Regions from separate parts of the Homo sapiens genome. Here region 2 is linked to region 1. The links come from fine-mapping of genetic effects on gene expression. A gene starts in region 1. The other region holds a variant in brackets. All regions are shown on one strand. Distances are between the middles of the regions.

Region 1 (16,605 bases):
TAGAAACTAGATACTTAAAATTCAAGAGGACACGTAGCTTATTTTGTTGGGGGAATGTAAAGGTTGACTAGGGCTACGTGTTATTACCAAATTTAATTCTTCTTCCTCATTACATAAGCACCTATGACAGGGCAGCACAGTGCTAGTCATTGAAAAAAAAAAATGCCTGGCTTTAAGCAACTTGCAATCTAGGAGATATACGTGGAAAGAACTGCAAATTGTTTTAGTTGGAATTATTTTAGTCTACAGTAGTTTCTGAAAGAAGTATGTGCTTAGTTCTATAAGTGGGGGACAGAAAATATTGGAAACCTTCATGGCGACAGTATTGCTATATCAAATATGTGTTTTGTGGACAGATGTGTGGTAAGATCATTTCTGGCAGAAATTTCATTGCAGCCAAGGCTTGGGGCTGAGGACATACCAGTAAATTCAGAAAACTGCACAAAATTTGATAAGGTTGCAGCAGGAGACCTGTAGTTGTGGGTAGGAAAGAGTCCTGGAGGGGCAAACAAGGGGAAGATTCCTGTGCACAAAAAAAGAAGCCTAGTTTATTATTATTATTTTTAATCAGGTCTTTATATATTTCTGGGTAGAAGACAATCACTTCTTTACCTGTCTCAACTTCAGACTCTTCCTATGCATACTGAACCGACCTGGCTTGTAGTCTTATTGGGACTCAGTAGCCCACAAGTATTTCTTCTGTCTTTATCCCTGTAAATCCAGGGTGAAACCTTGTGGCAGATGCTTGTTTTTGGTTTAGGATTCATTTGAAGTAGCCGCCAGTGAAGACTGTGTCAGTGGGAGCTTCTAGTCTCAGTTATGTTTAGTAGTGATGACTGACTGCCTGGTCAGATTATCTCTCTTTGTCAAGAGCCTCTTTGTCATCTGCCTGCTTTCCAACTACAGTCTTCCAGCCAGAAGACTGTAGTTGGAAAGACTTTCATTTGGAAAGAAAGACTGTATCTGGAAAGACTGTATTTGGAAAGACTTTCACTTATTCAATTCCACGTATCTCCTTCAAAGAAATTCATTTTTTGCTGAAAACATTGAGTTACCCTCTGGTGTTTATATTCTAGAAGCCTGTTTAACAAGGATATCATTAACAGAAATTGGTTATTGACATCTGATATGATTTGAATCTGTGTCCCCAGGAAACCTCAGTTTAAACTGTAATCTCCTATGTTGAAGGTGGGGTCTGGTGGGAGGTGATTAGATCATGGGGGAGGATCCCTCATGACTTAGTGCTGTGTTTATGATAGTGATTTCTTGTGAGATCTGGTTGTTTTAAGTGTGTGGCACCTCTTCCCACCACCTCTCTCTCTTGTTCCTTCTTTTGCCATGTGATGTGCAAGATTCTGATTCACCTTCAACCTTCAGAACCATCAGCCAATTAAACCTCTTATAAATTACCGTTTTCCAGGTATTTCTTTATAGCAATACAAGAATAGCCTAATACATCAGATTGTTGGCCAATGTAGGGACTTCAACATTGGCTATCTGCATAGCTTAGGTAAAAGATGGTTAAAACCCTGAAATTATTTGGGAGTGAAAGTCTGGAAGACAGTGATTCATAAAATTGAAACATATAGTTACCTGAAAGACACAACTCCTAAAGGTAAGGCTTTGAGGAACAATGTATCTATGGTCACAGAAAAAGGTGAAGGGCATGAAATAATTAATAGGTAGAGTAGCTGCTTAAAGGCCCATGGAACAGCTGGAAAAAAGAGAATGGGAAACTCAGATACCTGTGTTCTCAGCTCAAGTTCAGAAAATTGCAAAGTGTTTTATAAGGTTGTAGCAGTGAATTTGTAAATAAGGATAGATAGGAAGTTCTGGAAGAGCTTTATCTAAGGGTTTTATAAATCTAGGGGGTTATAAAATTATTTTAACACTGTAAAGGCTTTATTTTTACCCATTGCAGGAAGAGAGCTCAAATCAAAAAGCCTATTCTGAATTGTAATGAATGCACTATTCAACTTGTCTCTTTATAAAAAGTTAGAGCATTGATCTGGAAACAGAACCTCCCTCCCAAGAAATGGAATAGGGATTATACAACAAGATTCAGATGCACTGGTGTGCCAAGGATTCCCCAATCCTCACTGAAGCTCCTTTGCTTGCTGAAAAGCCCCACTCTTCTTGAGTTGTAAAGCAATTTCTACTTGTTCAGAGACTGTTTCCTCAACTCAGGCATTCATTCGCTTTAGGGGAAACATAATTCTTGTCATGCCCCATCCCCTTAATCTTCAATATGAGAGGTAGTAACAGGGTATCAATTAAAAAGTAAAATCTAGGGATGAAAACATTATTCTAAATGAACTATAAGAATTTTCTAATCTATACTAGCTACACATTAGGAAAGACAGATCTTTAGGATACTCAACAAAGGAGGGAGAGCAATAAAAATAGAGCAGACTAGCTTTAGTTATAAGAGCATACTTATAGGTTCTGGTTCCGGATTTATTATATTAGAGGTTCTGGATTTATTATACTAGTTTAAGTAGGTGGGAGTCTGATAGTTTCGTGGACCACTTATCACAAAATGGAACTCAATGGAATCTTACATTAAATGAAGTTGATCCTTTGGTAGATTATAAAGGCACAAAATCAGAACTTTCTCAAAATGAAATTTTGTAGTGGATTTATTATACTTTCACCAAGCATTGAGACCGATATTAGGGATGGGAGTACCAGCATCTTTTAAAAGATTTTAGTGATGTCCATGGGTTGCTGGTTGTCTTAGTTCATTTGAGATGCTATGACAAAGTACTATACACAGGGTGACTTATAAACCATTTAAATGTATTTTCTTTGTAGCTCTGGAGGCTGAAAAGTCCAAAGTAAAGGTGCTGACAGATTTAGTGTCAGACAGGAGCTTCTTTGTTATTTATAGTCGGTGGTTTCTTGCCATGTCCTCACATGGCGGAAGAGATGGGGGATCTCTCAGGCCTCTTTTATGAGGGTCTAATCCAATTTATCTGTTGTCAGGCCCTAAGTACCTCCCAAAGGCCCCACCTCATAGTAACATCAGTTTGGGGGTTAACATTTCAACATATGAATTTCCAAGGGACACAAAAATTCAGACCATAGTGTAGGTAGAAGGCAGAGTCATGAAAATTGATCCCCTTTAGTGAAGAAGAGCAAAGCTGGAGTGGAAGAGATCAAGTAGTGTCACTTGACTGCCAATGAGCAAAGTAACTATATTTTTTATTTATAGGTATTAGGATCAGCATGAAATCAGAATCACCCGTCACAAAGAGAACTTAATAATGGCCAATTGCAAATTAGATTTCTAGCAATGAAGAAGTGAAATTCGCCATCTTGTTATTTGATTTGTAAAACTCCAGAACCACTCATCAGAGCCCTGAATTGAGTCATTACAATATATGAGGCAGACTTTCTGCCCTTCATTGAATTTTTAAACCTCAGTCAAATCATGGACCTAGAAATGCCAGAATTAAGGATAGAGCATTTTTTCTTAAATATGTATTTTGTAATGATATCACAAGTGTTTGCTACTATATATATTTTTAAACCTAGTCCCTGAAGAGGAAAATATGGCTTTGAGGCAAAACTAATTCCTGGGGTCATCAGCCACTTTATAAGGGTTGTTTGGTGTTAAGATGGGACAAGTGAATAATTTATCTTGTTCTAGGTTATACCCTTTTCATATTTATATTTCCCAAGTAATTGTATGTATAATTAAAATTAATGAGCTTTGAAAGTGATAGATTTCTCATACTGTCTCTGTAAGCCATAAATGAAGGACCCATTCTGATTGAAAAAAAACTCAAATATTTCAGAGCTCCTCACTTCTATAAAAATATTGGATTAATAGCAAGGTCATGTCAGTAAAAAAATAGACATATCAGTGCCACCTTCAAAGACTTAAAAGTGCAGAATTAATGATTCCCAGCAGATTTCCATTTAAACTAGTGCCTGGCAGTACAGCGGACAAATAGTCTTAGAGGATAAAAATGAATTTTCCGAAGTTTAATTACATGGCAACTCCTGTTGCAACTGCTGTGCCATATGTAGTCTAAATCATTACAGCTCTTAGTGCCTTGTATGAAGCAAATGATCTGAGGAATGTCTGTTCCTTCTATTCCAATAAACAAAATGACCAGAAGCAGTATGCTTTCTTTTACCAGACAAGAACAGCAATACAATTTTGCTATACTATTCCTGGATTGTGTTAATTCCTTGACTTTGTGCCATATTTTAGTCTGCAGAAATACTGTCTTACAGGACATCGTGTGATACAATCAAGAGGGTAAACTGTATTAGCTAGATACTTTCTGACATTCACTTGAATGTCAGAAATGTTGGAGATAAATAAAATAGAAGGCTGTAAGTGGCCAACTCATTGATTTATTATAGAGGTTTAGGGTCTAGGACAAGTTGAGATATCCCTTCACAGTGGAGACATTTTGTTGAACCCTACATCCATTACCACTAGAAACATAGTCTCTTTGAATTGTGGAGGCCACATACAACCACATGCGAATCCACTACTGAGAAAGTATAAGCTTTCAGTTTGTCCCATGGCAAGAAGTGGTTCTCCAGAGAGATGTGGTCACAGTGATTTCACTGGTTATCACTCATCTGATTAAACGATATTCAAAGAATATATGGCAGCTAGATGCAGCCAGTGGTGAGCCTTAATAGGAGGATTCAACCTCCAGCTTTCCAAAATAAAAGCATGCTATCTTTAGTAAGTAATTATTATCCTTTTCGGACCTTAGGGGAGACTGAACAATAATTTGATGTTAACTGCCCATAAACTCAGTATTGTCTGGTCTATCTAGCCTAATCTGAATTGCCCAGCAGTGCTGATTCAGCAAGTACATGATATAAATGGAAATGAGACCAAACGGATTCTAGTCCTATGGCACTGCTGCCTTTCTGGTAAATCACACTTATGACCTCATAGAGGTTTTCTCTATAACTTGAAAGAGTATAAATACCATCTGATGATAGTTGACAAGATATAATACGCAGGAACTGATTGCAAAAATATAGCTCTGATTTTGGATGGCCTGGAAGGGCAGTTTTGTAAGATGTTAAGATGTTAAGGATAACAAGGATAAGGATATACAAGAATACATTTGGGATTCAGTGAAATCTCAACATTATTGGAGATATTATGAATCTAACAGTATTTTTTTTCAGCATTCTGAAGACATTGTGTCTTGTATGAGAGCTCATCTGAAGTGTTTTGGAGATGAGCTGTAAACTGATTGGCGTCTAAGCTGCTAGCCTCCTGTGGTAATATCTCCTGAAGGCCAATGGTTCTAAGGCTAACTTGGTAGAAATGGAGAGAATTTGAGAAGCAGGAAGAAAATGATTCTAGATAAGAGTGATCTGGGTAGCTGGTAACAGAGCTCTCCCCAAAATCACAAGGCTGTATTTATTTTTATTGTTTAATTAGCTAGTGAAAGCCTTCCTGTGGAGTCCTGGAGCAACTGGCACAAAAGAGTTATAAATATGCCAGTTGAATCAAAATATAACTAGCTTAGAAGTGGCAGAGTTTATAACTAGTTTAATATTAGTTTTGGAATCAGCATAGCCTCAGGATGGTTTAGACACAAAGAGTAAGCTGTAAACAGAAGGTTATTTACTATTTATTCATAATGACAGAAAAATTTCTTATTACCAGTATTAATAAAAAATCATAGTGATACAAAGTGCAGTGAAAGGCAAAATATTGACATTTCTTTGTCAACTTATATTCAGTATATGCAGACCCCCACATGCATATATGTGTGTACAATTGCATAATATATGTGTGTATGTAAATAAGCATGTATATACATTTTGTGTGTGTCTGTGTGTGTATGCATGTAGAGAGAGAGAAGAACATTTTTCTGGAGAAACTGAATAGTCACAAAGAAAAAGACATATAGATATTGAGTTGGGGATTGGTTTGCCCCAATAAAATAGCAAAGTCCATACCTACTCATTCTAGAGTAAAGCTGATTGGTGCTATCAATTCTCACAGATATTTTAATAAGGACTTTCTTTTTAAATATGAATCTATGTTCAGCAAAGCACTAACAGACATATGAGGAAAGACTCTAATATAAAATATCTCTGGAGGTTAAGTAAAACCAAGAAAAAAGTCAAAGAAAACAAAATTATTGCAAGAAGACAAAAACCTCGCACTGCCAGCAAAACTCTTTAGTTAAAATCCTAAGTGAGATAATAGAGATAGTAATTACATGAAACAAAAGAATGCTTTAGTAAAAAAGATCAGAGAACAAGTTGATGTATACTAAGAGTAAATGTATACGATATAGAAAATTTTAAAAACCAGAAGATGAAATCTGTCAGAAATCATAAACAATTTTGAGAAGGGAATTAGAAAAGACTAGATAGAATTAGACAATCTAATCAGATTTATTTTAAGCCTTAAAAAAAGAGAATATAAAAAAATTGATAGACTATATGAACATGAACTTCCAGGTTGGAAGAATTTTTGAATGCCCCATGAGTGAGTAAAATACACCCTTTCAAAACACACTATTATAAAATTACAGAAAGTGAAGATTGAAAAAAAAATCCTAAGGGTTTTCAGAGAGGGAAAGGGGTCACATTCTGAAGACTCAGGCCATCATTTTATCAACGTTTTCAGTCTCAACTCGAAAAGTTCCAAGACAATTGCTTCTTCGAATATCGTCAAACTTTTGAAGGAACACTATTTTAAATTAAAATTCTATTTAGTTAAAATACCAGGTAGGAGGGTAGGCTGAATAAACACATTTTAAAACGTGAATTTAAAAAAAAAAAAAAAAAAGGCAAAAACATATCCCAGGTAACAGGAAGTGAAGCGATTAGAGGATAGACTCTGCCAATATTGTGGTGTTAACCAAGAAAACACAAGATGGTGGAAGCAACAAGGAATCCGACAGAGAAGCTGGGTGAAGGGAAGTCCAGGACCATAACCGTCGCTGACAGACCCAGAAAGCGAGGTTTATAATATCCATACATTCACTTTAAAAGGCAGTAATTCAAGAGAAACAGTGTGATTTATTTTTGTGTTAATTTTAATTTATACCTTAGGGAAGCTTACTTAACATTGGAAGAAAACTTATAATGAAGACCTACTACATGAATTCTTTTAATGCCTGCTGCAAGTAAATGTCTACTATATTAGATACAATTGAGTTGCACTTACTTTTATCAAAACACCTCCACGTACGTTGTAAGAGAGGATTCTTATAGCCTTTGATAACTATAAGGCAACTGAAATGTCACATAAAGAACCTAATAACTGTGATCTACCAAATTAGCTTAGGTTGCTTTCTAACAGCAAGGAAATTGCCTTGAAGTAGGAAGTTATGACATCTCAGGAGAAATACTATCTCCCAGGAGAAAAAAATGAATCTAATATGTCTGTTTTTTTTAATCAACAATTGTAAAATGTTCTAAGTCGTTTCAAAATATTGACTCATTTAATCTTCACCACAACTTTATGAGGTACATATTAGTATCATTGTTATTATTATTGTTAATTTAAAGATGAGGAGACTAAGGCAGAGAAAACTAGAAATATAATTGTCTAAGATCTCACAGCCACTAAATAGCAGAGATGTATTCAAACCCAAGCAGGTGTGGCTTTAAGCACCATGCCATTTGCCTCTATTCACTGAGTGGAAACAATTTTTTCAAATGATTTTACAATTCTGTTTGAGATTTTGGAAAATATGAATGAAATATTTGTATATGTAATGTATTATGTACAGTTACATATACAGAGAGAAAGCAAATAAATGTGCTACAATAAAGAATCTATAGTACTTTTGCAATGTTTTAGTAGTAGACAATGTTTATATTGTATAAAAAAGTATGCACTAAATATTCATTTAATAAAAGCTTGTGATATGCATATATGGGACTGAGCAAGCATGTTAAATGTTAACTTAATTAAAAAGGTTAAATTGACAAATTAAAAAATAACATAAGCTGGAATATTAAAGCAAATACTAAAAAAAAGCTTTCGAATAAAGTTAAAAATAATGGCCTCTTGGGAGCAGGGCTTACACTGAAATGGGTGGGGTTGGTAATTATTACCTTCATTATGAGTTTTGTGGTAGTCTTGACTTTTTAAATTATCATTACACTATTTTAAATGTCTTACTTTGACATTTTAAGATTTTATATATATGTGTGTGTATATGTGTGTTAGATATATATTTTAGTGGATTCCTTTTATATTTAAAAAATTATATAACAAAGTTTAGTCAAACAAAGCTGAAATTGATTTATTAAGAGAAAATTCTTTTTCTTAGCAAAAGTTCAATCAATTCTAAATAAACAAAGCTCCCAGGAGCACCTAAGGAGTCCATCCAACCATCGCTGAAAACAGATGTGTCAGATACAAGTGCCAGCAAATTTGAAATTTCATGTCTTTTATCCACTCATGCATTGTCTTCTTTTCTAAATGTCAATAGTCTTCAAGAATGTGACAAGCTAAATTCCTTAGTGAAAGACAGTTTAGCAAAGTATCTTCCTTTTTAGTAGGAAGAAGTAGAAGCAATATAAGTAAATTTAAAACAAAAAATGCTAAAAAAAAAAAGGAGGGAAGTTACAAAAAATACAACAACAACAGCTTTATTTCCTATCAAATTTCTGAAAGGATTTATGTCTGGAAGGCAAAATTATCGACTATCACATTCTCTTCTGAAATAAATTTCTGGCATCATTTCCTCATATGTGAAAGCAAAGTTTGCAGAAATGATTTGTAAGATCCCCTTGAACTTTGAATTTTTCACTATGAAAATTGTCTATACTTATCCAACATGTTCACCTTCATTATCTCATTTGATCTTAAGATGACCTCGAGCACTTCTCAGGGAAAATACATTATCGGGAGACTTAGGCTCATGATAGTTAAATGGCCTATGCAAGGCCAAGCAACTACTAAGTTGCCAAAGGAAAATTCAAACTCACATTTTTAAAATATCAAAATCTAAGGCTTTCCATTATGTTCCTACTTACACAATTATGCTGATCAAAAACTCATGGCTATAAAAGTGATACAAGTGCCTTATATGTTTATTTGCTCATTTATTCCTTCAGTAAACATGTGTTGACTACTTGCTATGTGCAAAGCCTCATAGACATTTAAAATATCAAATTGTCACTAGATAGATTGTGCCATAGCCACCTTATTAAACTTTAGGATTCCTTTCTACCTTTTTGAAATATCAGATAGGACTAGTCAGAGTCTTTTATTAATTTTTATATCAGTTCATATGACTCAGACATTCTTACTAACTTCTGAAATTTATTCAACTTAAACAGTTCCAGAGAAGAGTTAAAGTACCCACTCTTCAAGAATCAATAATCGAAGAAAAGTAGATTAGAATGTTACAGGAAAAATCGAGACACAGATAGTGATTACCCTGACAGTGGAAACAATTCTATGTTTTTAGTCTGGAAACAATGATATTAAAACTCGGCAAGCATTGTAGATGATCATTTTTATTTGTGTCATGTCTCCCAAAGTCCTTAAAATGTGATTATTATCATATGCGCACAGAATGAGAGAGAAGAGTTAAGAATGATTTCCAGATTTGTGGTTTGGGAGACTGAATGTGACAAAAGTCTCAAAAGTATAAAATGACAGGAGCAGTTAGAAGTAAAAGGAGACAGAGAATTTCGTTTTACATATATGCCCTTGAGACATGCAACAGGAGATGTCTAGAAAGCAGATATACACACACATTGGAAAGCAGGTCTTCTAGAAGCTGGGTTGCAGATACAGACTCAGGAGTTACCATGATGGAGGAGATGGTTGGAACCATAGAATCATGCAGGAAATGTGTATAGAGCAAGAAGAGCACAAAGCAGAGGACAGAATCTCAAAGGGTTCCAAATGCTAGAAATGCTCTTAAATAATGTTATAAAGAGGAAATAGAGCTTTGGGATATAGACAGAGAGAAGTCACCAGAAAATGGGAGGAAAAACTAGGAAAGAGTAATGTCAGAACAACTAAGACGAACATTTAATAAAAGGGGGTGGGTCAGTATTGTCAAAGGCCAAGTATGCTTAACACTAAAAGACTTCAACAGATTAGTAAATGTGAGGATCATTGCTGATTTTCTGTCAGAACCATTTTAGGGAAGCAGAATTAGAAGTCATATTTTGGTTGGCAGATCATGAGTGGAATGGTGAAGAGGAAATAGATTGGAGGCAGCCAGTATACTACTCTAATTTTCCTACAATGAACATGTAGCAACATTTGTATAAGAAAATTATAAAAAGACTAAAATCAGTTTGGCTAAAAAAATCAACAGTAAGACAATAGCTGGAAGAGGGCCATGCAGATTTGAAGATCATCTGTTGTTTAAATCCTGAGGGTTTAGGAAAAGGAGAGGGAGAAATGCAACAGAGAGAGGAGACAATTGTTGTGAGAAAGCAAGTAACACTTGGTTGTCTTCTTAAAATGTGATGTGAGTACACCTACATACCTATAGGACTAGTAAAAAATCATGTCAAAATAGGATCTCAATCTATAAAAACCCTTTAATATAAATGCATTTTCCAGTTGAGAGTGTAGGGCTAATTCCAAATAAGGCTATTATTTCTGTAATTGTTTATAACAAACTAGACCTAACTCTGTGAAGCAATCCATTACTATTTTGTAGATGACAAAACTGAACTTTAATTTACCCTCCTATGGTTAGGAGAGAGGAAAGAGGTGGTTCACAAAAGGTCCTCTGAATCCAATGCTTAATCCTCTTCACGGTGCTCTTTGACAATACTCATGTGAGCTGTTAAATGAGTCATATAACATTCACTGAAGCTAGAATAAGAGAGATTTTGAAAAACAAAACAACAATCAATCCACATAATAACACCTAAATGAAATATTTTTTGTTTGCATCTTTTCTCAAGAAGCATAATTTTTTTTCATCAAGTATCAGAAGTGGAGGACACACTACTTTAGATATGTGTTAAAGAAAAAAGTAGCAGTGTAACAGAATGTCTCATAAGGGACTATATGCAAAACATGTGTTATATTATAATGAATAAAAAATTATCCCACCTTAGCAGGTACTTGGAATAAATTGTTAAAAGAAATATAATAGGAAATAGGGATACAAAAATTATTTCTCTGAAAAAAAGCATAATACCAAGATTAGCACCAAAATCAGGTAGTGCTTTCCAGATATCACATTTACATTTTTTCAAATACATATATTTATTTATTTTTCCCTTAGTCAAACACATTACAGCATCTATTTTATATCAGGAACAGATAAAATATGTCCATATAAACAGAAGACATTGGCTTTTAATTATTTGTATTCAATTTTTAAGAAATGATCATCTAGGGAAAATGTTTTAAAATCTTTTAAAATATCTTTTTGTTATACTTTAAAACTGCCTTCAGCTGCCTATTGGTAAATAAGGTCTGGATATCAGTACATGACAACATATACTAATGAATTGAACTGTGAATTAGGAATGAAAATTGCCTAGAAATTTTTTTATGAGTTATTAGGATTAAAGTAAGAATTTCCTTTGCTGGGCTGTGTAGGCACTAAGATTCCGTGGTTGTTGGAGGGGTTAAATTTGGATCTACTAGTGCATATATTTTACCGAGGATTCATAAAAACACGACAGTGGAGCCTGGGTCAATCCATTACCATGTACAAGCAGTGACCAATAGAAAAGGAAGAAGAAGATCCAAGAAGGCTGAGGTAAGCAGTCTTCTGAAGCCCTGTCAAAGTGGAAACAATAGATCAAAGGTGTTCATGGTGACTGGGACGAGTAGGTTTCACTGTTTCTCATAGACGACTTGACAGCTTAAAGTAAAAACAAATTATTTTCGTCAAAGTTTTTTTTTTTCTCTTAACTGATTTTTAGCAAACCTCAGACTGAGACACAGGACTCAACGGTGTATTCCTGGAAGGCAAGGTAAACTATTTTGCACTTTTAAAAACTCTTAAAGTTAAGCATGCAAAGTACTTATTCAACAGACGCAGGGTTACAACTTCAATAACTAAACCAAAACCCTATTCTGAAAAAGAAAAAAAAAAATGATGTTTCTTTGTTGGAACATGGCCAGAGCAGCGTTCTGCAATCCTAGAAAATTTGACAGCTTGCAGAAGCAGTTCTGCACTTGTTTTCTGCAATTTAATGGCAAAATTGAATGATCAGCATTTCATAAATGAAGTTGACTTTATCTTTTCCTAAGGAATCAGTAAAATTTATTTCATCCTATTATCAATCAGTTCAATAAATGTACATTGGTCAGAATGTTACTGATATATATATATATATATAAATATATATGTAACATATGTATGCTATAAATTATTAAAATATATATGTATATTTCCTGTTAAAATAATTATTTGTACCAATAATCTTTGATGATCAGTGGGGAGGGTTTATGTGTTTTAAATGTATCAAATATTAGTAAACGCTAACCTACTTTCCATTATCCACACTGATAATATGAATATAAAGAAATTCTCCACCCGTATCCTAAATATGTTTTTGGTTGTTTTTGTTTCTTATCAACCATAATAATGGCATAGTTGAATACAATACTCATGTACTTGTGCTATACATCACAATGTATTCAACTCTATATAATAAACTCTATCTCTATATATACATATATATACATATATAGAGACAGAATATACATATTCTCTGAGAGAGAGAGAGAGAGAGAAAGGGAGAGAGAGAGAGAATTGATAATTCAATAGCTTGGCTGAACAACTTAATTGTGTGCTTAAAATTATAGACATCTTCCCCCACCCTCAAAAAACTTACTTGAGAGGTTGAGCTAGAGAATAACAGATTAATTACATTTTTATTCAGATCCTAGAACCTTCCTTCACCATAAAGTGCTAAAATGTTCTTTGATCCCTTCATTCCTTTGGTTCAAGGGCCAAAAGGCCTAGGAAATCTCATCCAGATGTTCTGCTCATTTAAGAGTAAAAGTAAAAGCATATGCTTTCCTCTCAGGAACAACACAGATTCCCAGTTTGAGTTTTTAAAAGATCACTTTTTTGTACTCTCATATTCAACTACTGGTTTCAGTTCAGTTCTTTAAATTAAATAGCTTGAAATGGAAAAACACTTAGAGCTGCTAAAATTTTCTTTCCATTTCTCGGCTTTTATTGTGTTTGGGTTACAACCAGAAAGCTACAAGTCGGTGAATTATTCTCAATGTTTGCAAAATGCTTTGCATATGGTGCCTACTAACTAATGTATATTAATTAAGATCTGTGTATGAAATGTTGACATATTTTCACCTCTTCCCTGAAGAAGCAATGTTTACTGATCATTTTGATGTATAAAATTATCTAAAGGTCAAGATCTTCAAATATCTAACAGTTGTGTTCCTTTTTCTGTAGGTGCTATAATGGCAGGCACAATCTGTTTCATCATGTGGGTGTTATTCATAACAGACACTGTGTGGTCTAGAAGTGTGAGGCAGGTCTATGAAGTACATGATTCAGATGATTGGACTATTCATGACTTCGAGTGTCCCATGGAATGTTTCTGCCCACCCAGTTTTCCTACTGCTTTATATTGTGAAAATAGAGGTCTCAAAGAAATTCCTGCTATTCCTTCAAGAATTTGGTATCTTTATCTTCAAAACAACCTGATAGAAACCATTCCTGAAAAGCCATTTGAGAATGCCACCCAGCTAAGATGGATAAATCTAAACAAGAACAAAATAACCAACTACGGAATTGAAAAAGGAGCCCTAAGCCAGCTGAAGAAGTTGCTCTTCTTATTTCTGGAAGATAATGAGCTAGAGGAGGTACCTTCTCCATTGCCAAGAAGTTTAGAACAATTACAATTAGCTAGAAATAAGGTGTCCAGAATTCCTCAAGGGACCTTTAGCAATCTGGAGAACCTGACCCTTCTTGACCTACAGAACAACAAATTAGTGGACAATGCCTTTCAAAGAGACACTTTTAAAGGACTCAAGAATCTCATGCAGCTAAACATGGCCAAGAATGCCCTGAGGAATATGCCTCCAAGATTACCAGCCAATACAATGCAGTTGTTTTTAGACAACAATTCCATTGAAGGAATACCAGAAAATTATTTTAATGTGATTCCTAAAGTGGCCTTTTTGAGACTAAATCACAACAAACTGTCAGATGAGGGTCTCCCATCAAGAGGATTTGATGTATCATCAATTCTAGATCTTCAACTGTCGCACAATCAACTCACAAAGGTTCCCCGAATCAGTGCTCATCTGCAGCACCTTCACCTTGATCATAACAAAATTAAAAGTAAGTAACCTGCAGAGTATGTCTTTGACTAAAGGGCTCATGGTCATTAAATGTATCTTTATTTTCATTAAGAAGAGCAAATGTGTTGCCCCCTCCCCCGCTAATGTTCCTTTAGATTTTTAGTGTGTTTTCAATTTTCAGTATTAAATTTTGTCTATACGCAGACAGTCTTAATGAACCAAGAAGTCCAAATCTTCAAACTGAAGACTAAAAAGTGGACTTGAGTCATCTACAGAGGACTATTATCCATTAGAGAAACTGAATGCCTCTATCTTCTTTTACTCCAGGAGATTCCAATATTTCTGCCCCATTGGGTAGGCTTATTTAAGAAACCATACCAGGCACAAACAACCTCATGACTAGTAATAAAGAAAATATGATTTAAGAGGCATTAGGAAGGCATCTTTGTCCTAAACACTATATGACAGCTGATGCCTGAAACCCTCCTAATTGGAGTCTCTAATTAAACTCCGCTAATTACAGTGGGAGTCTCAAACAAGTGTGTAAAGGCTGGTGACTCCACCCCCAGAATTTCTGATTCAGTAGATGTGGAGTGAGACTTGAGAATTTTCATCTCTAACAGCCGTCCAGTTGATGTTCTGGGAACTACACATTGAGAACCACTACTATAGTTTAAGGCTTTATTAATTAAAATGGAAAGAAATTTCCCTGGTAGCTGGCAACTCCTTGGGACTTACAGGCAATCGTCAGGTAGAATACTCTCTCCTTTCCTGAAAAGAGCTTTTCATAAGGGAGTGAGAGATGAATTCAAAGTTTTTGGAGGCAGAGGCATCATCAAGAGAAGAAGTGATTATAGAAAGCAGATGTTGGACACATTAGAGACAAACTTGGCTTCTTCACAATTATGCATGAGACTAGGCTGGACTTGGTGTAAAAATAGGTCCAGCCACAGGGGTACGATACCTAGCCTGGCATTTATCTATGCATCTTCAAACTCAGAGTAGACCCTTTAAAAATAACTCTGGGGAGATTTCTCCAGGACAACCTAAGAAAATGCATTCCAAAAGTAATATTCAGTCAGGATAGTTTGTAAGAGAATAACAAAGATAATTTGTCAAAAGGTTGTGCTGCCTGGGTATTACTCACTAAAGCTTTTTAAGCAAATAATCACATAAACATATCATTTATAGGAACAGACTATTTTTCCACTGGGAACTGCTCAGTTATTTAAGAATTTTTGTTTTTTTGGTGGGGGGAGTTAAATAACAGTGTACTTGAGTCTACAATCCAGGAATTAAATGGCAGCCTGCCATCATAGCGGTTATTTTTCCATGGTGATGAAATGTATTGTTTAATCCTGTAGTCAAAAACAAAAGATGCAACAGAAAAAAAATGTTAAGAGATGAATCTGTTTAGCTGAATCAAATAGAACAACAACAATATTGACCTAAATACATAATTTTTCCTGACGAGTGTTCTGTGCTTCTACAGGTATATTACAGGTACATTCCTTAAAAGCCCCACGGACAATTGATGTGGGAAGTAAACTTCAAGTGACTCCACATAGAGCCCTTGCTTACAAATTATGCATTTCATCCTGAGCATTTGTGAATTAGGGTGTTTAGGAGTGAGGCAGCAGTATTTAAAACACAGTTGAGAAGTATAAGACTTTAGCTTATGGAGTATTATGTGTGTAGTATAGACCCACATTTTAGAGTTTTATCAAAGTGTTTTCTCATAGGTTTCTAATTTTCTATCGTTCTCAAATCTGAGTGTGCATCAGAATCACCTGGAGATCTTATAAACCCAGGTTGCTGTTTCCTACCCCCAGAATTTCTGACTTGCTGGGTCAGAGGTTGGGCCTCACAGTTTACTCCCCAGGTATTAATAGTATTGATGTTGCTGGCTCACGATTTGAGAACTACTATTTAATCCTTGCGAGAAACTTGTGTGATATTATTAGGAATTTCTGAAAGAGAGAAACTGAAGATCAGCTAGGGGAGGATATTTGCCCAAGGACAAAGGGTAAATGCAATAGCCAGAACCTGAGTCTGAAGTGTTTTTTTCACTCATACAGTATAATAACAATACTTTCCTTCATTGTCATGAATACAAATTTTTAAAAAATTCTATCAGTAGAAAAGCAACAAAGAGAAATCTAGTTATTTACTTTTTAATGTAGATATCAAATTTTGTCATTTCAATATTTAAGAAAATAAATATAAGAGTTTCCCTGGAGAGAATATTGATATAATAATATCACACTGTGTCAAAACTGTTTAAGTACTTGCTTCTTCTAGCCACATCATCTACTCTAGTTGTAACAAAGTGGTCTCTAAGAAACATATCTCCTCTATGAAAAGACATCAAA
Region 2 (16,605 bases), 350 kb before region 1:
ATCTCAGCTCATTGTAACATCCGCCTCCTGGGTTCAAGTAATTCTTCTGCCTCAGCCTACCAAGTAGCTGGGATTACAAGCACACACCACCACTCCTGGCTAATTTTTGTATTTTTAGTAGAGGCGGGGTTTCGCCATGTTGGCCAGGCTGGTCACGAACTCCTGCCCTCATGTGATCCACCCGCCTCTGCCTCTCAAAGTGCTGGGATTACAAGTGTGAGCCACCACGCCTGGCCACCCTTTCTCTTTTTTACTTTCTGTGAATCACTACTGTCTATCCCTTCTTTGAAACTTCTTTTCCCCATTTAATTCCATGGGCAATATTTTCCTGGTTTTGCCCCCAACTCCTTTACACCAGCTGTAAAAGCTGGCATAATATTGCCTAAAATGTGTTCCAGAGAATACTACATCCTCAGGTTATTAATTGCCTAAAAAATACATACAACAATAATAAAAATATAATAAGAAAGACATTCAAATAAGTTTGGGCAACATGAACTCAAGATTCTTTGTTGTGAAGTCTTTAATATACTAATGTGCATTATGTATTATTTGGCAGGGGTTATGATATATGGTTTTATCAAACATACTTGTCTTAAAAATCTTATCCACGGGGAGTTTTGCAGAAACATTTAGAAATACTTTTCAAAACACCAACCTGGTGATATAATAACAAGTAATGGGGCATTAAAAATTGCCATGCCTAGCAGGGGGAATCTGAGTAATTCTGGTATCTTCCCATTCCTCAGTTTACTCATCTATTTTATTCTCCTACCATGTTTCCAATTTTTTCTGTAAAATTAGATTACATTTTGTTATTCAATGTAATATTAATTCATAATTTATCATCTTTACTGAACTACACATCTTTGTAACAGTTACAATGATCCTGAAATTTCAGCATCATATTACTTCACATGAGAGATATTTTCCTCAGAGCAGCTAATGAGATTACTTTTGGTTTATGATGTGTACTAAAAATAATTTTAGGAGAGAGAGCAGGGGTGAAAATGGTGTTAAGAAAGCAAAATCACCTTTGATGAAAGCATAACTCTGAATTACAAAACTGTTCCAACCTTCCATTGTGTGGTCAGAGGGAAACACTGGACCTCAAAGTACCAATTATGGGTTACAGCTGGCCTGTTCAAGATGACTAGAAGTACTCTGCATTAAGGATACAGGCAGAACATTGTGGTTAGACTTGGAGCTAGATATGCACTTAGAAAAACAGTTGGGTTAAACCAAACTCCCTCCACCTGAAAGGAGGGTGACTTCAAACTCAAGTGAAAGCATTAGTTTCCAGTTAACATGACAGAGTGGCCTAATCAATAATGAATTGCAATGAGTCCATGGGCCATTCTGCCTTTCTTGATCAATATGGTTTCTCACATCTTTATGGAGTGCTGGCAGAAGTGATGCTCCCTAACTCCCAAGGGAAAAGTTGGCAAGACACACCAAGGCCCACATTTAAAAAACCAAGAGAGTAGACACTATTATTCGGCATTTAAGAACCAAGGCAGGAGGGAGGGAGGAAACAAGCCACCATTAATTTAATATTATATTTTTCTGTGATGAAAATAAAACACAAGAGCATTTATGCTTGATAAATGAAGAGGGATAACAGTTTATATTTTGTGTTCATTTAACATGTATTTAACAAACTTTATACAGTGGTTTTTAACTTGGGCTTTTTGACTCACATTTTGCTTACTATTGACTTGCAAAATAAGTTTTCAATTTAGTTTTAATATAGAAAAGTTAGGTATTTAATATAAAATGAATATTAAATCATTTATCTAGAATCAAAAATGTGAGGTAACACGGAAGGAAATATAGTTTTTCCTTATAAGTATGTAAAGATATTTGATAGTTGTGCTGCCTGCTGGGTGTTTTAGAGCAATAAAATCTTTTCTACTATTTTTTGCCTATTTAACCACAATAAATGGCCTAGAGGTCAGCCTGCTCAGCTGCCATGGTGTGGAATCTTACAACATTTCAGGAAGACAAAATGTCTTTCATTTTAAAATCCTTATTCACTGTGATTTTGATATGAAAGATGTTACCAAAGTGTTGGGAGAGATTTCTATTGGAAAAGCTGATTATACATCCAGATCCTCAAAAGTATGCTTTAAGAAATTTATGGTTAAGGGATTAACATCTTAGAGCATGTGATGAACAATTTTATGAGTCAACTTGGATTGGCTACCATACTCAGTTATTCAATTAAACACTAATCTTGGTGTTGCTGTATAGGTATTTTGTAAATGTGATTAACATATACAATCCTTGACTGTAAGTAAAGGAGATTAATCTTGATAATTTGGATGGGCCACATCCAATTAGTTGAAAAGTTTTAAAAGAACTGAAGTTTTCCTGTAAAAAAAAGAAATTCAATGTGTGTCCTACAGCCTCAGCTCCTGCCTGAGATTTTCCAGCCTGTCCTATTGAGGATTTGCCTAGCTAACCACCATGATAAGCCAATTACTTGAAATAAACACAGACACACACTCACTCACACACACTATATATGCACATGTGTGTTTGCAATTAGATTTTGTGTCTAAAATTGAAATACATTTATTTTCTTTTTGGTGAGAAATAATTGTACAATATAATTGTTTGTGTGTGTGTGTGTATGTGTGTGTGTGTGTGTGTGTCACACTGCTTCTGTTTCTCTGGTGGAACCCTAACCGATAGGGAGCACATATGGTATACATTGTCCAGCTCTTCTTCAAAGACACTTTTGCTGCTCTTCCTGAAGTCTGTAGCCTCTCCTTCTCATCATTATCTAGCACAGCATCCTGTTTATTTTCTTCCTAAAAGTCATGATAATCTGCAAATTAAAAAAAAATTAACTACTTACTGTCTTTCTACATAACTGAAATAAAATTTTCTGAGATAAAGCACCCTCTCTCCTTCACTGAAATATCCTCAGGATGTAACACAGTGCACGGATCATAGTAGGCACTCAGTTTGTTGAATGAGTGCAACATAGAAGGCTTCTTACATTGAATCTTCATAAAGCCTCTGTCATATGAGGCCTATTATCCCGTTTTATATACCTCAGGAAAATTAAATGATTTGTCTCAAATCACACAGCCGATAAATGAGGGATCTGGAATTTTAAACCAAATTGTCCTATTCCCAAATTCATTCTGTTTCCTTTATATTATATTGCTGATTTGGGCTTTTTATTGAACTTAAATCCTACAATGTATCAGACTCTCAAGCACTATGCAAAACACCAAAAAGAATCATACATAGTGTGATCAGAGATACCTATAAATAGCTTTATTACTCAGCCACTGGCATGCCCGTAGAAGAAGCAATTGTATGGGAGTTACTCCTGCTTGGGAGCATGGAAGGAGGTATCAGGAGAAGGAAGCCATTCAGGTGGGCCTTGAGTTCATGAGCTGACATTGTGAAAATCAGTTTAGACCCAAGACAATACTGGCAAAGACATAAGCATTTGCGGGTTAAGACTGTTTGAGGAATGGTGAAATTGAATCATTTTAGAGTGTGAGATATGTGAGTGGGAGAGGATAGATAGGTATCTATACTGGCTATGAAATGGACTTAAAGTCTAGACTTAATCGACGTAATCCTATGTATAGTTGTGGTAGCTGTGGCAGGCCACACAACATGTTTGTTTCATACTGTAAATGTAAAATGTCACTTAAAGATCATTAGCAAGGTTGATCTTTGAAGGTGAAGAAATTTTTTTTTGAGACAGAGTCTTGCTCTGTGGCCCAGGCTGGAGTGCAGTGGTGCGATCTCGGCTCACTGCAAGCTCCGCCTCCCGGGTTCATGCCATTCTCCTGCCTCAGCCTCCTGAGTAGCTGGGACTACGGGCACCCACCACCACACCAGGCTAATGTTTTGTATTTTTAGTAGAGACACGGTTTCACCATGTTAGCCAGGATGGTCTGGATCTCCTGACCTTGTGATCTGCCCACGTCAGCCTCCCAAAGTGCTGGGATTACAGGTGTGAGCCACCGCGCCCGGCCAAAGGTGAAGAAATTAATAACCATTTGGAGCAGAAGATAACTCTCATGGGGATCTTTTAGTATGTTATTCCAGTCCTCCAAGAAACAGATACTGAGATGGGATTAAATATGCAGAAATTGCATTAGAGAACACAACTGTAAGAGAAAATGGGGACAGAGCTGGGAAATTTGAAAAAAAAAAAAAATGCAGGTCTGATCCCTGGCAAAGGAGAAATTGAGAAGACATGTTCTAAACTGCCAGATCATCTACAGAATGTTCAGCCAGGGCGTCAGAAATCCTTGAGTGAATGCTAACCATCAGAAGAATTTTGAATCTTCCAGGAAGACCTGCTTTTGCCTTCCTGGCCTGGTCAGTAAGTAACTGGTCTTGGCTTGTGGGAGGCATCGCAAAGCAGTGTCTGTTCTCTTGGCCGATAGTGCTACATGTTGTTGAAGGTCTGTGAGACACAGTCTTTACTTACACACTTCACATGGCTTGTGCCCTTGCAGAATTAAAGCACCTTTCTGCCTTAATTAAAGCTTTACATTGCAGTCTTCTTGAACATTGTTATTCACTTTTGGAAGTGGTAGGTGACTTTTCATGCAATTATTCTTCAACAAAAAAACTAATAAATTGATTTCACAATTACAAACAAAGTTCTCTAATGGTGAAAAGCTGAGCATGAGTTTCCATTTAATTGCCTATACCTGAAGATATATCCCTTCCCTTATGAAAGGAAGACAAGAGCTGGCACATGGCAGCCTATGGAATGGGAAAGGAGAGATCTCGTTAAGAGAGTGAGTGCTTACTCAGAATCGTGATCTCATCGAATTAAATCTTTTCATACTAGTCATTATTTTTGTGCCCATTTTACTAAGTAGAAAACTGAGGCTCAGCTAACCTCATATAACTAAAATGGGTCAAAGTCAATAATGGTTGTGTTCCCTCTTCTGTCCTATGCTGCTTTTAGATCCTTAATGTAAAGGGTGAGTGTGTCACTTAAGGGAAGGGGTGGAAGAAAGAGACTAATGGTTCACAAGACAGAATATCTCTTCTTTCCTAGGTCAGTGCTGCTCCCTTTAACTAGGAGGGCAGTTTTGGAAGTCTGAACACAGCACCAGTGGGGAACGAATAGAAACTGAGTGAGCAGCACATAGGAGGTAACATGATTAAGAGGCTGCCCCAACAGCTATTGATCCAGCCTTGAGGAGACAGACTACCTCTTTCTCCTCCCCTCCAGATTGATGTAAATGGATTGAAAAATCTGAAGCTGCCTTTCAGATATGTTTTCCCAGGTATCACCCCTGTGAATCTTCCATCTTCTGAGGTTCATTAATGACTTATTACATTGGCTCATATCAATACAATATGACCTTCACACTTGTCTTTCATTCACTCGACAAATTCTTGCTGCTTACCAACTTATGTTCCATGTGCTATGCTAAGGGCTTGGACAAAGCAGTCAGTAAGTCAGCCTTGGTTCCTGTCTTTGTAGAGGCTATCCTCAAGTCACTATAGCAATTGCACTTGCCAAAACTGGCTTGTGACTTTTTGTGCATTTATTTTACATTTTTGTGTAACTATGTTACATTTTGCAGTATGCATTTTTGGAGAATATTAACAAGATTCCCTATTTTATTTTTGCATTCCACCCTTCCTCCATTCTTACACACACACACACACATAAACACACACAGTCCTAAAACTTATTCTCCAAACAGCTATGAAATTTGTCTTTCTCACTGTATCTGATAGTGACCATAAACTCCAGACTCCATAGTGTAACCTACAAAGTCCTTCTCTATGTGACTGTGGCCTGACTTTCTAGATTCATCTCTGGCCATTCCTCCTTCCACCTTATACTCTATGTCACACAAAGACACTCTAGATTCTTGCCAATTCTCTTTACACAGAATGCCTTGCTTACCTTTTTCATTAGGGAAACCCTTACTGACCCAATTCAAATTTCCCTTTGTCTAAGAAGCCTTCACCCTGTCCTCCAGGAAACAGGTCTTCTCTTCCATGATTTACATGTGTTATAGCAAATGCTGCATTGTATTGCAATAGTTTGCCTAACTACATTTCACCTTTTGTTTCTTGAGTTCCTGTAAGAGACCAGATATCTTTTTGTTTTTGAACTTTCAGTGCCTAGCAAAGTTCCTGAACCCTGGTAGGGAATGAATAAATAGCTAAATTGATTTCATTTGAAGTAAGACTGTGGTTAAGAAAACTTGATTTTGTTTGCATGTGATGAGCATTAACCCCATGCAGAAATGTTATTTCACTAAATAAGGGTACCAGGTTCACATTTTTTGATGACTAAGCATTTAGATGAAAATCTAGTCAGGATAAGTCACCTTAGGATAATTTCAAATAGGCAATTCTCAACATTTTGTTAATTCTGGGGTCAATGACTGGACAATTAAAAAATAAAATATGATGAGTGACAGTGCTTAACATTTTAGCATTTCAAATGCCATATGTAATTTACCTCAAATCCAGGGCTTGGACAAAAGTTGCAGTAGAGCTAAATGAAAGCCCCCACACTCTTTTAAAATAGCTGAATGTAGCCCACTCCTGAGGCTGTTTATTTTTACATGATATACAATGAAAACACTATAATTAAGAATGGGTAAACCCAGCTGTGCTTTGGGTTGATCAAATTTCTTAAAGTTGCTTTTTGACTGTTTGGAGTCTGTGAAGACGAAAGTCTATGTTTAAGAATTTTCCCTCAATTTTTAAATCAGTGTTTATTTTAAAAGAAGTATAATCCATATGGTTTTGATTCCTCCACACTTAACTCATCCAAGTGCAGTTTTGTAAGAACTATTTGAA[G/A]TCAAAAGCTTTTTAAAATTTTTATGAGCTTTTTTGTCTTTTGCCCCCTCAGAAAAGGAAGCAATACTTGCCAAGTGTAAACAAAGTTAATCACCAAACAGTTTTATATTCTAAAATAATGAAACCACACTGGGTGCTGAATTTGACAAAACAGTTCTTTTATCCTCAGGGAAATTGTTGTCTAAGCTCGTAGAGTGACTGCCTTCTCTGAAGAAGAGCCCCAGGTGACATCAGCATTGTATTATTAGATTCTCAGATCCTCACAGTAAAGTAGTTGTTGTTTTCCAGCTAGAGTTTACTCACAATATCTTTATTTTGTCACAGAAGTCACCCAAGTACAATATTAAATGTCATGACTACCGAGAAAAGTTAGTGATAGCGTATCTAAATGTTGATGCAATGCTGTATCTATGAATGAGCATCTCAGGGCTGTCAGACCTTAGCAGGAAATCAAAGAGGATAAAAAACACATGACCCCATGGAAGCTCTCAAAGTCACATCTAGAAGAGCCCTCAGCAAACTACAGCTCACAGACTAGAAACAGCCTGCCAACTGTGTTTGGAAATAAAGTTTTATGAAATACAGCCACACCCCTACATATCACTCACAGCTGCTCTTGTGCTACAGTAGCAAAGTGGAATAGTTGTAATAGAAACCACATGGTGAGTAAAGCCTAAAATATTTACTACCTGGCTCTTTACAGAAAACCATTGCTGACTCCTGACGGAGGTGATACGTGGCTGAGAACTTAGATTTGCAGCTCTGGAAATAACAGAAAACTTCTCTGAATGTCATAGTCTCACTTTAGATCAAGGATTAAAAGAAAATTTAAATAATATATACACTTAGTGATTTTTGTAAAACGCTTTATTAGAAAATAAACATAGACCATTATAAATATATGCTATTTTGTGCACAAGTGAGAAACAAACATTTGCTGAAAATTTCCCAACTTCTAAGATCTCTATGATCAAACATTTTGAGGATTTTAAAAATACATACAATTCTCATAGCACTGAAGTATTCACGGTGGAGATCTCTTTGGCAAGGTAATTATTGTTTTCCTCTATTATCAATATAACAGAAAAATAGTAATCAGATTTCATAAACCTTACTTTGTGCTAGATACCTTTGCTGGGCTTTTTGTATGTGTATGTCTTCTTATATTTAATTTTGACAAAAGCACTAATATGCTTTTTAAGCTCCAGGGATCTTAGCTTCCTCTTTTGTAAAATGGGGATAATAATATTACTTGCCTCATAGGGCTATTTTAAGAATTAAAGAAATTAATGCATATAAGGTACTAAGGATAAGGCCTGTGCCATCTGCCAAACCCCAAATGGAACCGCTAGAAACCAGCTGAGCTAGCAGAACCTAACTTATTAAACATACTGTGGTCAAGGTCAATACCATTCTAGTAGGATAGGAGAATCTCAGAATGGGAAATGTCAGAAAAAAAAATATATAGAAAATGACAGAAAAATATATAGAAAATTTTCTATATAGAAAATATATAGAAAATTTTCTATATAGAAAATATATAGAAAATGTCAGAAAAAAATATGTCAGGAAAAAAATGGGAAATCTCAGAAAAAAATATATAATATGCACACACATATATATAGTTTTGGCTGATGGTTCTATTAGGAATCTTAAAAAGCAGGAGACTAATTAGGATTGGGCAGCTGATGACTTGAGAGTTATGGATTGGTAGACACAGTAAGGCAAGGACATTGGTACAAGTATTAATGAATAAGTAAGTAGTTGGTCTTATAAAACAAGTTATTTTAGTTCATTTATCTTCCAGGGACAATTATTTTCTGCCCCATGTTTATGTATTTCTTACCAGGTCCCCAGAATCTTTTAACACAAAAACAGAAAAGTATGTTGGTTTCAGTTCTCACGTCAGATGTACTAAGTTCAAATATGTATTAGCAATTATCATTGTCATTTTTATCATCATTTTTTTACAGATGAGGTAGCTGAGACCTTGAACGATTGGGAAACATGCCCAAGGTCATATAGTTTAGATACTGTAACTGCTAGCATCTTGTTCATATCTCAGAACCTTCATGTTAGTGTGGAATTAACAAAGTCTGTACTATAAGCATCTACTTGCTCAAATGAATCTTATTCAGAAAAATGAGAAAAACTGCATACAGGAGAAATGTACTCTTGTTAACTATAATGTGTCTTTTCTCTTGGAAGCAGTTAGGTATGATGGAACTGAAGTGGCATAGGAATGGTATGGGTAGCAGTGAAAGAGTGATGGACGAGTGCTGTGGCTATCTCATCAACTCTACCACCATCCTCCCCCTTCCAAAAAAACACACAAAAAATATATCAACCAGGCAAAGTTTCGTTTATCAGACCTACTGCAGTACAGTACAGGACAACATTACCTGTATGGTTAGTTCTGTCTTTGAAGGAGAAGGTCAGATCCAAATATCTATCAGGTTTGAGATCTGGTTATAATTGATTTAAGGTAGGTCTTTCAGGATAGAAAATTGATGGGTATTGGACAAGGTTTGTGGCATACAGTTGGTAGACACAGTGAGGCAAGGGTCTTCAAGTAGTTCTGGTAAGTAAAATGTTTGATAAGTGAGCTATTTGCTAGGTGAGCAATCTATTGTCCTGATAGGAGATCTTTTGTTTAAATTTGCAAACTATTTGCCCAAATTGGTTTGACATATTTCATGAAACTAATAGTAAAATTATTCATTGGCCATATTCATATCTGCCTTGGTGAGAATTCTCCTGGACCAAACATGTAAGTCATGCTGACACAAGGAAGCTTAGTTCTGAGTCCTAATAATTAAGATATATGGATGTAGGTGGTTTCAGTTCTCAAAGCAGACAAAGTGATGGATTATAGTTGTGCTGATTCTCATTCCCAAGGTTATTTATTTTTAAAAGCCCTTTTGGTACACCAGTCCTCTAATCAGGCAAATTATCTGCATACTAAAAAACATAAAATATAATTAGGCTAAACAATGTTATTTAGGCCAACAATTGTCTTATTATTGTTTAACTTTATCCGCAACATTGTTAATTTATGACAACTTTGTTAACACCTCTACCTTACAAAATGCAAGTGTTTATTCCCCTAATCAACAAAAATTTACTATTTTATAATTTTGTGTCAACTGGGCTAAATCACTTTCCAAAGCAAAATACTCCCTAGTCTTTTCATTTAAATATATCTATGTCCTTTACTTATATAGTTGTCCCTCCAATATCTGCAGGTGATTGGTTCAAGGACTGCCACAGATACCAAACTCTGCAGTTGATCAAGTCTCCTACATTAAATGACATTCTATTTGCATATAACCTACTCACCTCCTCTCATATACTTTAAATCATCTCTAGATTACTTATAATACAATGTAAATGCTATATAATAGTTGTTATACTGTATTTTATATATTTGTTATTTTCATTGTTGTATTGTTATTTTTTTTAATATTTTAAATCCATAATTGTTGAATCTGTGGATGTGGAACTCATGAATACAGAGGGCTGACTATATATATATATATATATTTTAATTTTTCTATCTTTTCATAGTAAAAGTAAGGAGGGATGACTATTTTTTCATGGTGCAGCTGATCTACTTCTTAGGGTTTTACTTATAGTTACTAAAGAAAAAAAAATAAAAACATTGAATTATGTAATTTTACCTGAGCAAGCAGATAATCAAAGCCCTGAGACTAACAGCCATAAGACTCCGCTGAGTTACATGGCAAGAAAGAAAAAATAACAATGCAAGCATTTTAGGCAACAGCTAAATAAATATCATAAGGAAGTGAGGAACGAAGAGGGGAAGAAGACAAGTAAAATTTTAAAAATAATTTAATCGATACTACAGTAAGTGAATTATAGTTAATAATCATTTATTCATATTTTAAAATAGAAGAATTGTCATGTTCTCAACACAAAGATGGAGGTAATGGATATTTCAATTACCCTGATTTGATCATTACACATTGTTTACATGCATCAAAATATCACATGTACCACCAAAATGTGTACAATAATCTTATACTGATAAAAATACAGAAAAACATAACTTAAAAAGAAAATTCACTCTTTAAGCAGATGTGTTAAAATATGTTTAACAAAATTTTTTTTTTAATGTAAGCAAGAAGTCATGTGGAAAGTGAATATTACAACTCTTAAACATATTTATCCAGATGCATAAAATATGTATCCCAAATCAAGTTTGCTAAAATGCTGTAATAATGAAAAAATAAGAAACAAATAGAAAATGGAGCCTAGTGTGGTGGCTCTTGCCTGTAATCCCAGCACTTTTGGAGGTTGAAGCAGGCAGATCATCTGAGATTAGCATTTTGAGACCAGCCTGGCCAACATGGCAAAATCCCGTCTGTACTAAAACTTCAAAATTTAGCATGGTGGCAGTTGCCTGTAGTCCCAGCTACTTGGGAGGCTGAGGCAGGAGAATCGCTTCTTGAACCCAGCAGACGGAGTTTGCAGTGAGCCAAGATCATGCCATTGCACCCCACCTGGGTGACAGAGACTCTTTCTCAAAAAACAAACAAACAAACAAACAAACAGAAAACTTAGGAAATGATTGATAATCAAGATTGATTAGAAGTCTAGTAAAGAACATTATGCAAGAAGGCAGGGTATGTCAGGCATATGGGGATTATAAGCAAAATGCAAATAATATACTCCTTGCCCCCAAATGAAGTTATTTTATTGATTTTTGTCTTCCTTGATCAACAATGTTCTAAAGAGAAAAGTTTCAATTAAATGCACATTTCCTTTCAGTTGCCAAGTCTACAAAAGGAAACAAGTTGAAATGCAAATGAGTAGCACTTTCTTGGAAAAATATTAACAAGGAAGCTGTATGTTGTATGCTAGCAGTAGCCAGAGACATCTGACAAGCCACTTCCAATCATATATGTATAATATATATATAATACTTTATATTGTTATATGTTAATAATAAATCAGCCTGTCTATTTTTCCAACTTTATGTGTATGCACAGCACTTTATATTGAGCAGAGAGAAAGCAAGCCAGCAACTAGAAGCTGAAGCAAATCCTACCAACAGGGCAGCCAGAGTGGTGAGCTAACTGTTCCACATGTGGCAGATTCTTTCTTGAAGGGACATCTGAGCCAAGCCTGATCCACCGGCACTGAATCCCAAATAAAATATCAAACTATTGTCCTGATTTCACATCAAAGAAGGTGTTGCAATGAACGACATCACATACCACACAATCCAAAAGTAACTGGACTCAGAGAGCTCGAACTTCTTTCTAAAGACCCAGCTGAAGCACCAGCTCAGAGTGCTGGTGGAAATGGTTTGAAAGGATTGTGTTTATTCCCCTAATCAACAAAAATTTACTATTTTATAATTTTGTGTCAACTGGGCTAAATCACTTTCCAAAGCAAAATACTCCCTAGTCTTTTCATTTAAATATATCTATGTCCTTTACTTATATAGTTGTCCCTCCAATATCTGCAGGTGATTGGTTCATTTACTTGAGACTATACCAGCTTCAGGGAAGCCAGTGATGAAGGCTAATGAACATTAACTGGATAAGTCACTTCGTTAACTTAGTTGTTCAGTGCCATTTCTAGGTTGGATGTTTTCTAGTAGGAATTAACATATGGTACAAAACTCTTTGTATTTTATTTCCACTCCGTATGTCTATCCACTTCTGTCTCCCTCAAATCTCCTAGGCACCTATCTTTTAATCCTTTTTCTTATAAGCTCCTGATCAGATGGCCAGGTCATTGAACATTGCTCAGAAATCTCTATATATGGCCAGGTGTGATGGCTTAGCCTTTGGGAAGCTGAGGCGGGCAGATCACAAGGTCAGGAGATTGAGACCACCCTAGCTAAAACAGTGAAAACCCGTCTCTACTAAAAAAATAGCAAAAAATTAGCCGGGCATGGTGGCATGCGCCTGTAGTCCCAGTTACTTGGGAGGCTGAGGCAGGAGAATCGCTTGAACCTGGTAGGTGGAGGTTGCAGTGAGCTGAGATCGTGCCACTGCACTCCTGTGACAGTGTGTGACAGACTCCTGTGTGACAGAGTGAGTAAAAAAATAAAAAACAGAAAAGCAAGAGAAAAGCAAGAGAAAAGAAAAGAAAAGAGAAATCTCTATTCATTCTTACCTTGGGCCATTTATCCTTCATCAAAAAAGTGAATGACTAGATTCTGTGCTCACAGTTTTGCCCCTTGGGAAGATTTTCTCTGTCTACTCTGTTTTAAGGCATCCCTGATTGTAGCTGTAATGCAGATTCCATCTATTTTTGGTTTATACCCATATACCAAGGCAAACTATTTATAAACCAACCTCAGGGCTTTTCCTCACCCTTCAGATGATTTGTGGGATACCTCCACCCTGTCTTCAAATGGAAATAGGTCAGAGCTAGGAGAGGGACACGAGGACAAGTGTAGTAGGTGACACAGGGTTCTAGGCTACCTGCTTATGTAGGTAATACATGCTTTGCAGTTCAACTTGGGCTTGATCCTGGCTGTAGCACTTGCATGGGACAGTGGGGCATTGCGAGGCCAGTCTACCTTTATAAGCTGTTGGGTTTGGCAAAATCCAGCTGATATTGAAAAGTTCTAGATGTTTTGACACAGATAGAATGGTCAAGCATTCTATCTGTGTGAGAGCAGAGTAACATGCCAGAAGTTGTTTCTGAATAGGCATATATTTCTTTGTGTATTAGTTACCTATTGTAGCATAACAAATTAGCACAAATTCAGTGGCTTACAAGAATTCACATTTATTTTCTCACAGTTTCTGTGGGACAGGAGTTTGAACACAGCTTAGCTGGGTCCTTGATCATGTCAGCCAGGCTGTGCGCCTGTTTGGAGTCCAGAATCCTCTTCCAACTCCACAAGGTTGTTGGTGAAATTAAGTTTATTGCAGTTGTAACACTGAGATCCCTTGCTGGCTGTCAGCTAGGAACTACTCTCAGCTCCTAGAGGCTATACCCCCAGTTCCTGGCCACAAGGCCCTCTCATAACATGGCAGCTTACTTCTTCAGAGCCAGCAGGAGGGGCTTACTCCAGTTGGCTGAGACAGAGTCAATAAAATGTAACATGATCAAGAGGGTGACTATCTCATCACCTTCACAGTATAGCATAGCCTAACAAAGGGATAATTATGCTGTAATTTTACCAGAGTCTATTAGCTAAGAAGGAAATCCCAAGTTCTACCCACATTCATAAGATTGTACAAAGACATGACTCACTGGGGATTACCTCGGGGAATTCCAGCCACATTCTGCTTTGGATGGCATGGCCTTAGTCCAGGTTCTCAGAGACCTGTATTGTGATTTTCCCAGTGGTGCTTGTCAGGAACTTCACACTGCATCTTCTCCTACCACAGGTGTCTCTAATGCCATAGGATCTGTTAAGACATGCAGCACTGCTGGCACCACAGACTGGACATGCTATGAAGATCTTTCCTATTCTAGGTTTTACACAAATCAGGCAACCTTCAATGACTTCAGGCAAATGGGCCAGAGCAGAATTTTCAGGTGTATAATGTGTGGTCACCATACCCTACGAGGCCTATCAGGCACCATGCTATCTTTTTTGCTGTAAGAAATTCAAGATACAGCAATTTGCCGTTTATTTTCAAGGTAATATTCTAGCACAGCCACAACCACTAATCCCCTAAATACTGTATCGAAATGATAGGTTCAAGAATCTTCATAGGGTTTAACTCCTTTTCTCTGAAGCATATATTGTCTTACCAAGATTTTTAGCATGACAATCACTTCTTGTTCTTGCTGTCCAATCCATGTGATGTTATCAACATAATGGATCCATATGTTGTTCCTTGGATGTCTCAGTGGTCTAGAGTTCTTCAGATGACTATAGTATGTTGTGGGAGGCGAATGCAGTTAATATAGCCCTTGCTATGGTTTGAATATTTGTCCCCTTCAAACCTCGTGTTGAAATTTGATCTGCAATGTTGGAAATGAGGCCTTAATGGGAAGTTTCTGGATAACAGAGGAGCAAATCCCTCATGAATGTCTTAGTGACATTCTCATGGTAATTAGTGAGTTCTTGCTCTATTAGTTCCTGTGAAAGTTGGTTGTTAAAAAAAGCCTGGCACTACCCTCTCCTATCTTTTGCTTCCTTTCTCATCATGTGATCTCTGCACATGCAGTTTCCTGTTCACCTTCTGCCATGAGTTGAAGCAGCCTGAAGCCCTGACCAGAAGCAAATGATGGCACCATGCTTCTTGCACAGCCTGCAGGGCCATGAGCCAAATAAGCCTATTTTTTAGAATAAATTACTCAGCCTCAGGCATCCCTTCACAGCAACACAAATGGACTACGACAGGCCTGATGCAAAACTCTAAATGAACATTATTGCACATGAATGCAAACTGTTTGTAAATTTATTACTAATGGGAATACAAAATAATGCATTTGTCAAACCAAAATCTACATGCCATAGACCTGAGGCCTTATTAATCTGCTCTAGCAGTATTTCTACATTTCATGGAATAGCTACAATCAGTACAAGTAATTGGTTGAGCTTGCAGTGTTCATTATTCAGGATCCATCTTGTTTCTGCTGGGGCCAGGCTGGTCAATTAAGCAGAAATATCACAATGATCACCACTCCTTTCCCATTGATGGCACTTCTCTTTGCTGTTCTTCCCAAATGATTCAATGTAATATAGTTTTTAATTTGTTATCTTGGACATGTGGAGTCAATTTCAAGGATTTCTAATTGGCCGTTTCCACTATGATGATTCTTACCCTACCAGCCAAGAATTCCCTGTGGGGGTTACCCTAAATGCCCATTGTATGAATGCCAATCATATGCTTAGGGTCTTGGGAAATGATGACCCAGTAGTCCCGCTGTGATGTGGACTTTATTCAGAACTCCAATGATTCCCTGTCTTCTATATGCTTCTGATCTAACAGAAGGACCATGAGGCTGCTTTGGACCCCTGACTATCAATGTCAATTCAGATCATGGGTCTAACACTCCTTGTAATATCTTTTCCCAGTGTACAGTCACTTGAATAAGTAACTAAAAGTCTATTTGGGAAAGGACTGAGGAAATCACTACATTATTTGCTTCCTGCTGTGTTTAGGGGTCCTTCATGCTGGAGATCTAGCTATGCCTTCAATTAGTGGGTTCCAGATCAGAAAATCAGTTTAACAACTAAGCAAGGAATAATGACTTTTTATCTGGGAGATTGTTCTCAACCTCCTACTCCCCAATTCTTGACAGTTTCTGGTTGTAAACATTAATCAGAGGTCTATTTGGCTGTCTGTCTTTTCTTCCCTTGTGAATGCCATGCTTTAATTATCTCCATAAACTCCCTGGAGGTCACAGCCCCTTTACTGCCCCTCTGGTCTTGGTGGGGTCTAAATGGTAATTGTGGTTCCTTGGCTTCTGGTAGTTAAATGCTGCCACCTGGCTATTTATTTATTTATTATTTGTTCTTTTTGCAGTCCTATCATCTCCAGGATATTAGCAAGCCCAGCTCTGGTCTACAGATTAAACCTATTACTAAACTCATTAGTGATGCTAGTGCCACAAACACAGGTGTATTCCTGATGACCTTGGTACATGGTGTTCTCCGGCCCTCCTGTGAAATATTATCCTCTGCTGTGTCTTCTGGCCTTACACATCCATTCTGGCAGGCCCGCTTTCATCAGCCTCTTTATTCCTTCCTCTCCTCTCTGGCAGGGCAAATCAAGCGATTCCACTTGCTCAGTATTAATCATCACTCTCCATGGTTTCTATGGTCACCATAGCAGT

The links. PIP is the estimated chance that this variant, and not a neighbour inherited with it, causes the effect. A credible set is the group of variants that fine-mapping cannot tell apart.
Region 2: its variant is the best candidate, but not a certain one, in a credible set for the expression of KERA in gastroesophageal junction (GTEx, PIP 0.56).

What each region holds. Positions count from the first base shown.
Region 1 is chr12:91,053,064-91,069,668 of GRCh38, reverse strand. KERA (keratocan) reads left to right here and starts at 11,645. Exons shown (of 3, transcript NM_007035.4): 1 at 11,645-11,925; 2 at 13,380-14,273. The coding sequence starts at 13,388.
Region 2 is chr12:91,404,537-91,421,141 of GRCh38, reverse strand. All of the region lies in intron 2 of LOC105369896 (a long non-coding RNA gene), which reads left to right. Among named protein-coding and RNA genes, the nearest start is that of LINC02823, 86 kb to the right of the region's middle. RefSeq lists enhancers at 13,938-14,257, 13,726-14,925. The variant G/A (reference allele first, on the strand shown) is at 6,823.